Linked DNA regions of Homo sapiens. The protein of the gene in region 1 purifies or fractionates together with the protein of each later gene. This does not show direct contact. Each region holds a gene or a part of one and is shown in the gene's direction. Other genes may lie near its edges.

Region 1 (3,817 bases):
GGAGGCTGAAACGGGAGAATCACTTGAACCCGGGAGGCAGAGGTTGCAGTGAGCCAAGATCATGCCACTGTACTCCAGCCTGGGCGACAGAGTGAGACTCTGTCTCAAAATAATGATAATAATAATAAATTAAATTAAAAGAAGGAAACCCAAAAGAAGGAGTCCTAGAATGGCCCAACCTCTGTGGCCTCATCCCCACCCTCCCGCTGTTTCTTGTCCCTCCTCAGGGCCCTGGCACCTGCTCTTCCTTCTGCCTGGAACTCACTTTCTATCTCAGCTCTCAGGGTCTCAGTGCAGAGAGAGACTTCCCAGTTCTCCCCCATCACATGACCTCTGCCCTAGCCATGGTGTCTGTGTCTAAAATGGGGACAGACAGAGTGAGAAGGGGCTTGAGTCAGGTCTTCCAGGCTTAAGAGACTCAGGCCTAAGCCCCAGCCCTGCTGCTGCTCTCGTGGGACCCTGGGCATCAGGGGCATTTCCGGAGTCATCTTGGCCCTGGGACCTCCGGACCAAGGCCCCCGTCCACCCCCCAGGGACCCATCAGGGTGGGGGCAACATATCCCAGCCGTGGGAACAGGCCCGATTCCGGCTGGGGATTAAAATTAGCCCTGGAGGTTAAATTTAGCAAGTCAAGCCGGAGCTGAGGGTCTGGGACTGACAGCTTGGGCTCTACATAGTTGTGGGGGCTCAGAGACCCAGCCCAGAGAGGGCAGAGGGTGTGCCTGGGGTCACACAGCATGCCATATCTGCCAGCCGAGGTATCTAACACTTCTGGGCCCTGGGATAATGGAGGGCCTTGCCCAGACCGCTTGGGCAGGGGTCTGGGAAGCCCTGAGAACACTCCCAGAGAACAATCTGGATTTCTTTCTTTCTGTTTTTGAGACGGAGTCTCGCTCTGTTGCCCAGCCTGTCAAAATCTCGGGATCTCGGCTCACTGCAACCTCCGCCTCCCAGGTTCAAGGGATTCTCCTGCCTCAGCATCCTGAGTAGCTGGGTCTACAGGTGCCCACCACTATGCCTGGCTAATTTTTGTATTTTTAGTAGAGACAGGGTTTTGCCATGTTGGCCAGGCTGGTCTCGAACGCCTGACCTCGTGATCCACCCACCTCAGCCTCCCAAAATACTGGGATTACAGGCATGAGCTACCACGCCAAGCCAGATTTCTTTTTCTTTTTCTTTTTCTTTTTCTTTTTTTTTTTTGAGACAGAGTCTTGCTCTATCACCCAGGCTGGAGTGCAGTGACACACCTGCCTCAGCCTCCCAAGTGGCTGGGACTACAGGTGTGCGCCACGACAGCTGGTTAATTTTTGCATTTTTAATAGAGATGGGGTGGGTAGGATGCGGTGGTAATCCCAACACTTTGGGAGGCCAAGATGGGTGGATCATGAGGTCGGGAGTTTGAGACCAGCCTGACCAACATGGTGAAACCTCGTCTCTACTAAAAATACAAAAATTAGCTGGGCATAGTGGAGGGCACCTGTAATCTCAGCTACTTGGGAGGCTGAGGCAGGAGAATCACTTGAACCTGGGAGGCGGAGGTTTTAGTGAGCCGAGATCGCGCCATTGCCCTCCAGCCTGGGCAACAAGAGTGAAAACTCGTCTCAAAAAAAAAAAAAAAAAAATAGAGATGGGGTTTTAGCATGTTGGCCAGGCTGGTCTCGAACTCCTGATCTCAAGTGATCTGCCTGCCTCGGCCTCCCAAAGTGCTGGGATTACAGGCGTGAGCCACCGTGACCGGCCTGATCTGGATTTCTTGATAACTTGTTGCCAAGCCTGGTGGTGGGTGCTCAGCATTTCCTACCAGCCCATTCACAGAAGAGCAAACTGAGGCCTGGGGAAAGGGTCTTCTGTGCTGAGGGCTGCCCTGAGGGTCAGAGGGAAGGCCAGGCCTGAGCGTAGGTCCGCGTGACCCTGGAGAGGCCCCTTGCCTGAAGCCTCAGTCACCTGTGACATGGTAGAGGCTGGGAGGTGGAGTGTGGTCACACAGTTGGCGGAGCGGGGACGTCCCCTGTGGTGTCAGGGGACGTCTGTACAGAGGGCGGCGGCTGCAGGACAGGCCACATGATTCGATTGTTCCCAGGAACCTCGAGTGGGGGTCTCTGGGGAAGGCCTGGACCCCAGCATAGTCCAGCAGTCTCCTCCTTCTGGGACCCCTACCAGGGCGATCTCACATCTCCTTGAGTGGGGTACAGGATTTCTTCCAAGTCACCAAGTGGATGCCAGGCCCACACCCTGGCCCAAGGACTCTGAGCTGGAGGCCTTTCCAGAGTGTGCCTGCATCCTCCTGCTAGAGCAGGAGGCGTTTCTATTATTCTGTTTTCTTTTTCCTTTAAAGACTGGGTCTCTGTTGCCCACGCTGGAGTGCAGTGGCAAGATCATAGTTCACTGCAGCCTCAACCTCCCCAGCTCAAGTGATCATCCTACTTCAGCCACCGGAGTACCTGGGACTATAGACGTGTGCCACCATGCCTGGCTAATTTTTGCATTTTTTGTAGAGCCGGGGTTTCAACATGTTGCCCAGGCTGGCCTCAAACTCCCAGGCTCAAGTGATCCTCCTGCCTTGGCCTCCCAAAGTGCTAGGGATCACAGGCATGAGCCACCATGCCCCATTTGGTCTAAACATGTTCATTGAGCCTCTACTGCATCCTAAGGCTGGCCGGGGGCGGGGTCTGCGACAGTGACCCAGCCTGCCTTGATTTTCCCCATCATCTTCCTCTCAGTGGCTGGCAGGGGCAGACAGAGGAGAGGTGTGAGGCTGGGGTACCCCTCCCCACTCTCCACCCACTCACTCTGTCCTCTCCCTCTTCTCCTCCTAGACAAAGATCATTCCACTCAGCCTGGGACGATGGGGAGGAAAAAAATCCAGATCTCCCGCATCCTGGACCAAAGGAATCGGCAGGTGAGTTCACTGGGTGGAACAGTGGCTGGGAAAGACATTCCTAGCAGGGGGCATGGCCTAGGCAAGGGACTGACCTGACCAATTGAACTGCAGGGGAATGAGGAGGCATGAGGAGTCCTGATGCCATGTCAGCCTTTCTTTTTTTTTTTTTTTTTTTTGAGATGAAGTCTCACTCTGTTGCCCAGCCTGGAGTGCAATGGTGCAATCTCAGCTTACTGCAACCTCTGCCTCCCGGGTTCAAACGATTCTTCCTCAGCCTCCTGAGTAGCTGGGATTACGGGTGCGCACCACCAAGCCCAGCTAATTTTGCAGTTTTAGTAGAGACGGGGTTTCACCATGTGGGCCAGGCTAGTCTCGAACTCCTGACCTCGTGATCTGCCCGCCTCGGCCTCCCAAAGTGCTGGGATTACAGGCGTGAGCCACCGCGCCTGGTCTGTCAGTGTTTCTTGTTTCCCCTCCCTCCCTCCTTCCCTCCTTCCTTCCTTCCTTCCTTCCTTCCCTCCCTCCCTCCTTCCCTCCCTCCCTCCTTCCCTCCCTCCTTCCCTCCTTCCTTCCATCCCTCCTTCCATCCTTCCTTTTTTTTTTTTTTTTTTTTTTTGAGATGGAGTTCACTTTGTTGCCCAGGCTGGAGTGCAGTGGAGCGATCTCGGCTCACTGCAAGCTCCGCCTCCTGGGTTCAAGTGATTCTCCTGCCTCAGCTTTCCGAACAGCTGGGATTACAGGCGCCCACCACCACGCCTGGCTAGGCTAATTTTTGTAGTTTTAGTAGAGTCAGGGGTCTCACCATGTTGCCCAGGCTAGCCTCGAACTCCTGACCTCAATCAATCCTCCTGCCTGGGCCTCCCAAAGTGCTGGGACCTCAGGCTGAGCCACCGCACCTGGCCTGCTCATTTTCATGATCATTATTCATTTATTCTC
Region 2 (3,817 bases), on another chromosome or scaffold:
GTAAAATACAAACCATTGTGTCATGAATATATAATTACATGCTTTAAAATTAAATTATGTAGATATTGGAAAATTGGTATTTACATCATAGAATTATATTTTCTTATAAAAACTTCTCTCTACAAATGTGGGCTAATAATTTACTGTTTCTGGGAGAAGGTTATATTTCTCGGATAGGTTAATATTAATAGCTGTTACCTTTCCTAAGATGTCATTTTTAACAAAATCTATAGAATTTGTATACATTGTCTTTGGGAAAGATATAGTGTCCTTGGATAAGTGTTTCTTGAAGTGTGGCCCAAAGACTTACTTACACCAGAATCACCAGAATGCTTGTTTAAAATGCAAATTATAAGGTTCTAACTCAGATAACTGAATCGAAACCGGAGGTGAGAGTGCTCTTGAACCCCAAGGATCTGCAGTTATAACAAACGATTGTAATGCACACTGACATTTGAGAAAAACCACTGCTGATGCTGGATTGCTAACATCAAAGAGTAAAGCATTGTTACTTACATAAATGATCATTCTTTTATCATTTTGCAGGTCCCCAAAATAAAAGAAGATGATATTGAGATGAAGAAGCGGAAGCGGAAAGAGGAAGGGGAAAAGGAGAAGAAGCCAAGGAAAAAAGTTCCCAAACAACTGGGGTACGTTAAATTAAACCTAAGAAGGGAACTGGCGTCACAGTCTGACTGTCTCTCCCTTTAGAAAGATATACTTACCATTAACTAATTCAACCTAGCTGAGTCTAATTTAGTACGTTATTGACATATTAGTGACTTATGTTTAATAGTATTGTAGTATTTGTTCTTAAGTAGAAGGCTTTGTCATCTTAGAGACTCCTAGTGTTTTAGGTGAAATGCTCATTACTACTTTTACCAACAAGAACCAGTTTGAAAAGATATTATAAACATTGAAAAAACTGTTCTAATCTTTTGGTACTAAAACTAAGTTTAGATGCCTGGGGAATGAGGATTGGCAGTAGCCTATATGTAAACAATTTATGGTTGTTTTAATATTAAAAATTTTGATTTGATTGATTTGAGACAGAGTCTCACTGTATCACCCAGGCTGAAGTGCAGTCCCACAATCTAGGCTCACTGCAACTCCCATCTCCTGGGTTCAAGTGATTGTTATGCCTCAGCCTCCCAAGTAGCTGGGATTACAGGTGTATGTCATCACACCCGGCTAATTTTTGTATTTTTAGTAGAGAATATTTTAGTAGTGAAACATGAGGGTTTCACCATGTTGGCCAGGCTGGTCTCAAACTCCTGACCTCAGGTATTCTGCCTCCCTCAGCCTCCCAAAGTGCTCGGATTACAGATGTGAGCCACTGCACCCAGCCAAAATTTTCATTGATTTTACATAGCTATTCTTTTTTTTTTTTCTCTTTTAGATAGGGTCTTGCTATGTCACCCAGGCTGGAGTGCACTGGCACAATCATGGCTCACTGCAGCCTCAACCTCCTGGGATCAAGGGATCCTCCTGCCTCAGCTACCTGAGTAGCTGGGACTATAGGCATGTACCACTATGCCTGGCTAATTTTTATATTTTTGTACAGATGGTGTTTCGCCATGTTATCTAGGCTGGTCTCGAACTCCTGGGCTCAAGTGATTCACCAGCCTCAGCCTCCGAAAGTGCTGAGATTACAGGCATGAGCCACTGCACACAGCCAGTATATAGCTATTATTAATGATATTGCTGCTAAAAAACAAATAGAATTTCTCAGAAGCCTTACATCAGAAGAATAAAATATTTGTATAATGCAGTCAAACATTACCAATTGCCTTGACTTCTCTGTGGCTTTTTTCACAGAGCTAAGGGAAAGACGCTTGTGAGAGGCTGAATTTTCTTACTCTACTTAGCAGTGGAGGTGCATCTGAATTTTGGGTTATCAATATCCATAAGATTGATGTCGGGCGTATTTCTCCCCTCCTAAAACTTGGGATTACAGTCATTAAGAAATTAGGAGGAAAAATGTGTATATTACTAATGGTTGTCTTAAATCTTCATTATTTACAAGTAGACTTCTTTGGGAATGTAGGCTATAAGTAATCCCTTTTATTGAGTGTATTGTTTTTCAACTTTATAACTTATTCATTTATTCAGCTAATATTTATTAAGTACCCTGCTGTATACCAGGCACTGATACAGGGTTTGGGTTGTATAACAGTGACTGAAACACGGGGCTGCCTTTAAGATGCTAATAACCTTTTAGGTTCTGTAGTGCACATAGAAGCATTTAAGCCATAGGATTTAGAAAAGATTTCTAGGAGGAAGTAATAGCTAAACTGAGCTGTTTCCCCATTTTCTTCACTGTAATGGCCATTTACCTATTTGCCTTTCGTGGGTGACATTCCAGATTATACTGAAGAAGGTGCTATTGTAATAGTATAAGTTAATAAGAAATTAAGAAAACTGCTCTGTCACCTGTCAAATTATTATTTTAATTCTGTGCCTGCTTATTTATGTGACACTTTAACGTTTAAAATCACACATAGCCTAACTGATCATTTTTGTCTTCACAGAGTTGTGGCTCTAAATTCACACAAGTCTGAAAAAAAGAAGAAACGTTATAAAGATTCTCTTTCTCTAGCTGCCATGATTAGAAAATTCCAGAAAGAGAAGGATGCATTAAAGAAGGAGTCTAACCCCAAAGTCCCAGTGACCTTGTCAACCCCTTCTCTGAATAAACCCCCATGTGCTGCTGCAGCACTGGGGAATGACGTCCCGGACTTAAATCTGAGCAGCGGTGATCCAGACCTTCCCATTTTTGTTAGCACAAATGAACATGAGCTGTTTCAGGAAGCTGAAAATGCCCTAGAGATGCTAGATGATTTTGACTTCGACAGATTACTGGATGCTGCTTCTGATGGTAGCCCCCTATCTGAGTCGGGGGGTGAAAATGGAACCACCACCCAGCCAACCTACACTTCTCAGGTTATGCCCAAAGTGGTACCTACACTCCCAGAGGGTCTACCTGTACTTCTTGAAAAACGTATCGAAGACCTTCGTGTAGTAAGTGTAATAATTCTCTTGCTTTTTATTTGCTGCACAAACATAAGAATTAATGCTTTTGTTCGTTTGTTTTTATTTTCCACATAACACTGGTATAATTGCTTTTGTTTTTTAAAGATAAAAATAATAAACTACAATCTGAACATTTTTATAACTTTTTATTTGCCATGTTTCCTTTTAGACCTTTCTTTTTTCTTTCTTTCTTTCTTTTTTTTTTTTTTTTAGTAGAGACGGGGTTTCACCGTGTTAGCCAGGATGGTCTCAATCTCCTGACCTTGTGATCCGCCTGCCTTGGCCTCCCAAAGTGCTGGGATTACAGGCGTGAGCCACCGCACCTGGTGTTTTATTTTATTTATTTATTTATTTATTTATTTTGAGACAAAGCCTTGCTCCGTCGTCACACAGGCTGGAGTGCAGTGGCGTGCTCTGCTCACTGCAACTTCTGCCTATTAGGTTCAAGAGATTCTCTTGCCTCAGCCTCCCAAATATCTGGGATTACAGGTGCGCACCATCTCCCCCGGCTAATTTTTGTATGCTTAGTAGAGATGGGGTTTCCCTATGTTGGCCAGGCTGGTCTTGAATTCCTGACCTCAAGTGATCTGCCTGCTTTGACCTCCCAAAGTGCTGGGATTACAGGTGTGACCCACTGCGCCCAGCCTAGACCTTTTCTCTTAAATAGAAATAACTGACTGGGCATGGTGGCACATGCATGTAATCCCAGCACTTTGGGAAGCCAAGGTGGGTGAACCACTTGAGGTCAGGAGTTTGAGACTAGCCTGGTCAATATGGTGAAACC

What was found.
Region 2: the proteins of MEF2B (region 1) and UBN2 purify together in Homo sapiens (affinity purification with mass spectrometry, with the first as the bait; one large-scale study listed by BioGRID). This does not show direct contact.

Annotation. Positions count from the first base shown.
Region 1 is NC_000019.10:19,149,764-19,153,580, reverse strand, and holds part of MEF2B (myocyte-specific enhancer factor 2B), read left to right. Parts: intron 1-2,816; 5' UTR 2,817-2,845; coding exon 2,846-2,899; intron 2,900-3,817. Other genes in the region: BORCS8-MEF2B (myocyte-specific enhancer factor 2B), read left to right, coding at 2,846-2,899. UniProt on the Homo sapiens protein: Transcriptional activator which binds specifically to the MEF2 element, 5'-YTA[AT](4)TAR-3', found in numerous muscle-specific genes. Activates transcription via this element. May be involved in muscle-specific and/or growth factor-related transcription.
Region 2 is NC_000007.14:139,258,721-139,262,537, forward strand, and holds part of UBN2 (ubinuclein-2), read left to right. Parts: intron 1-546; coding exon 547-650; intron 651-2,531; coding exon 2,532-3,021; intron 3,022-3,817.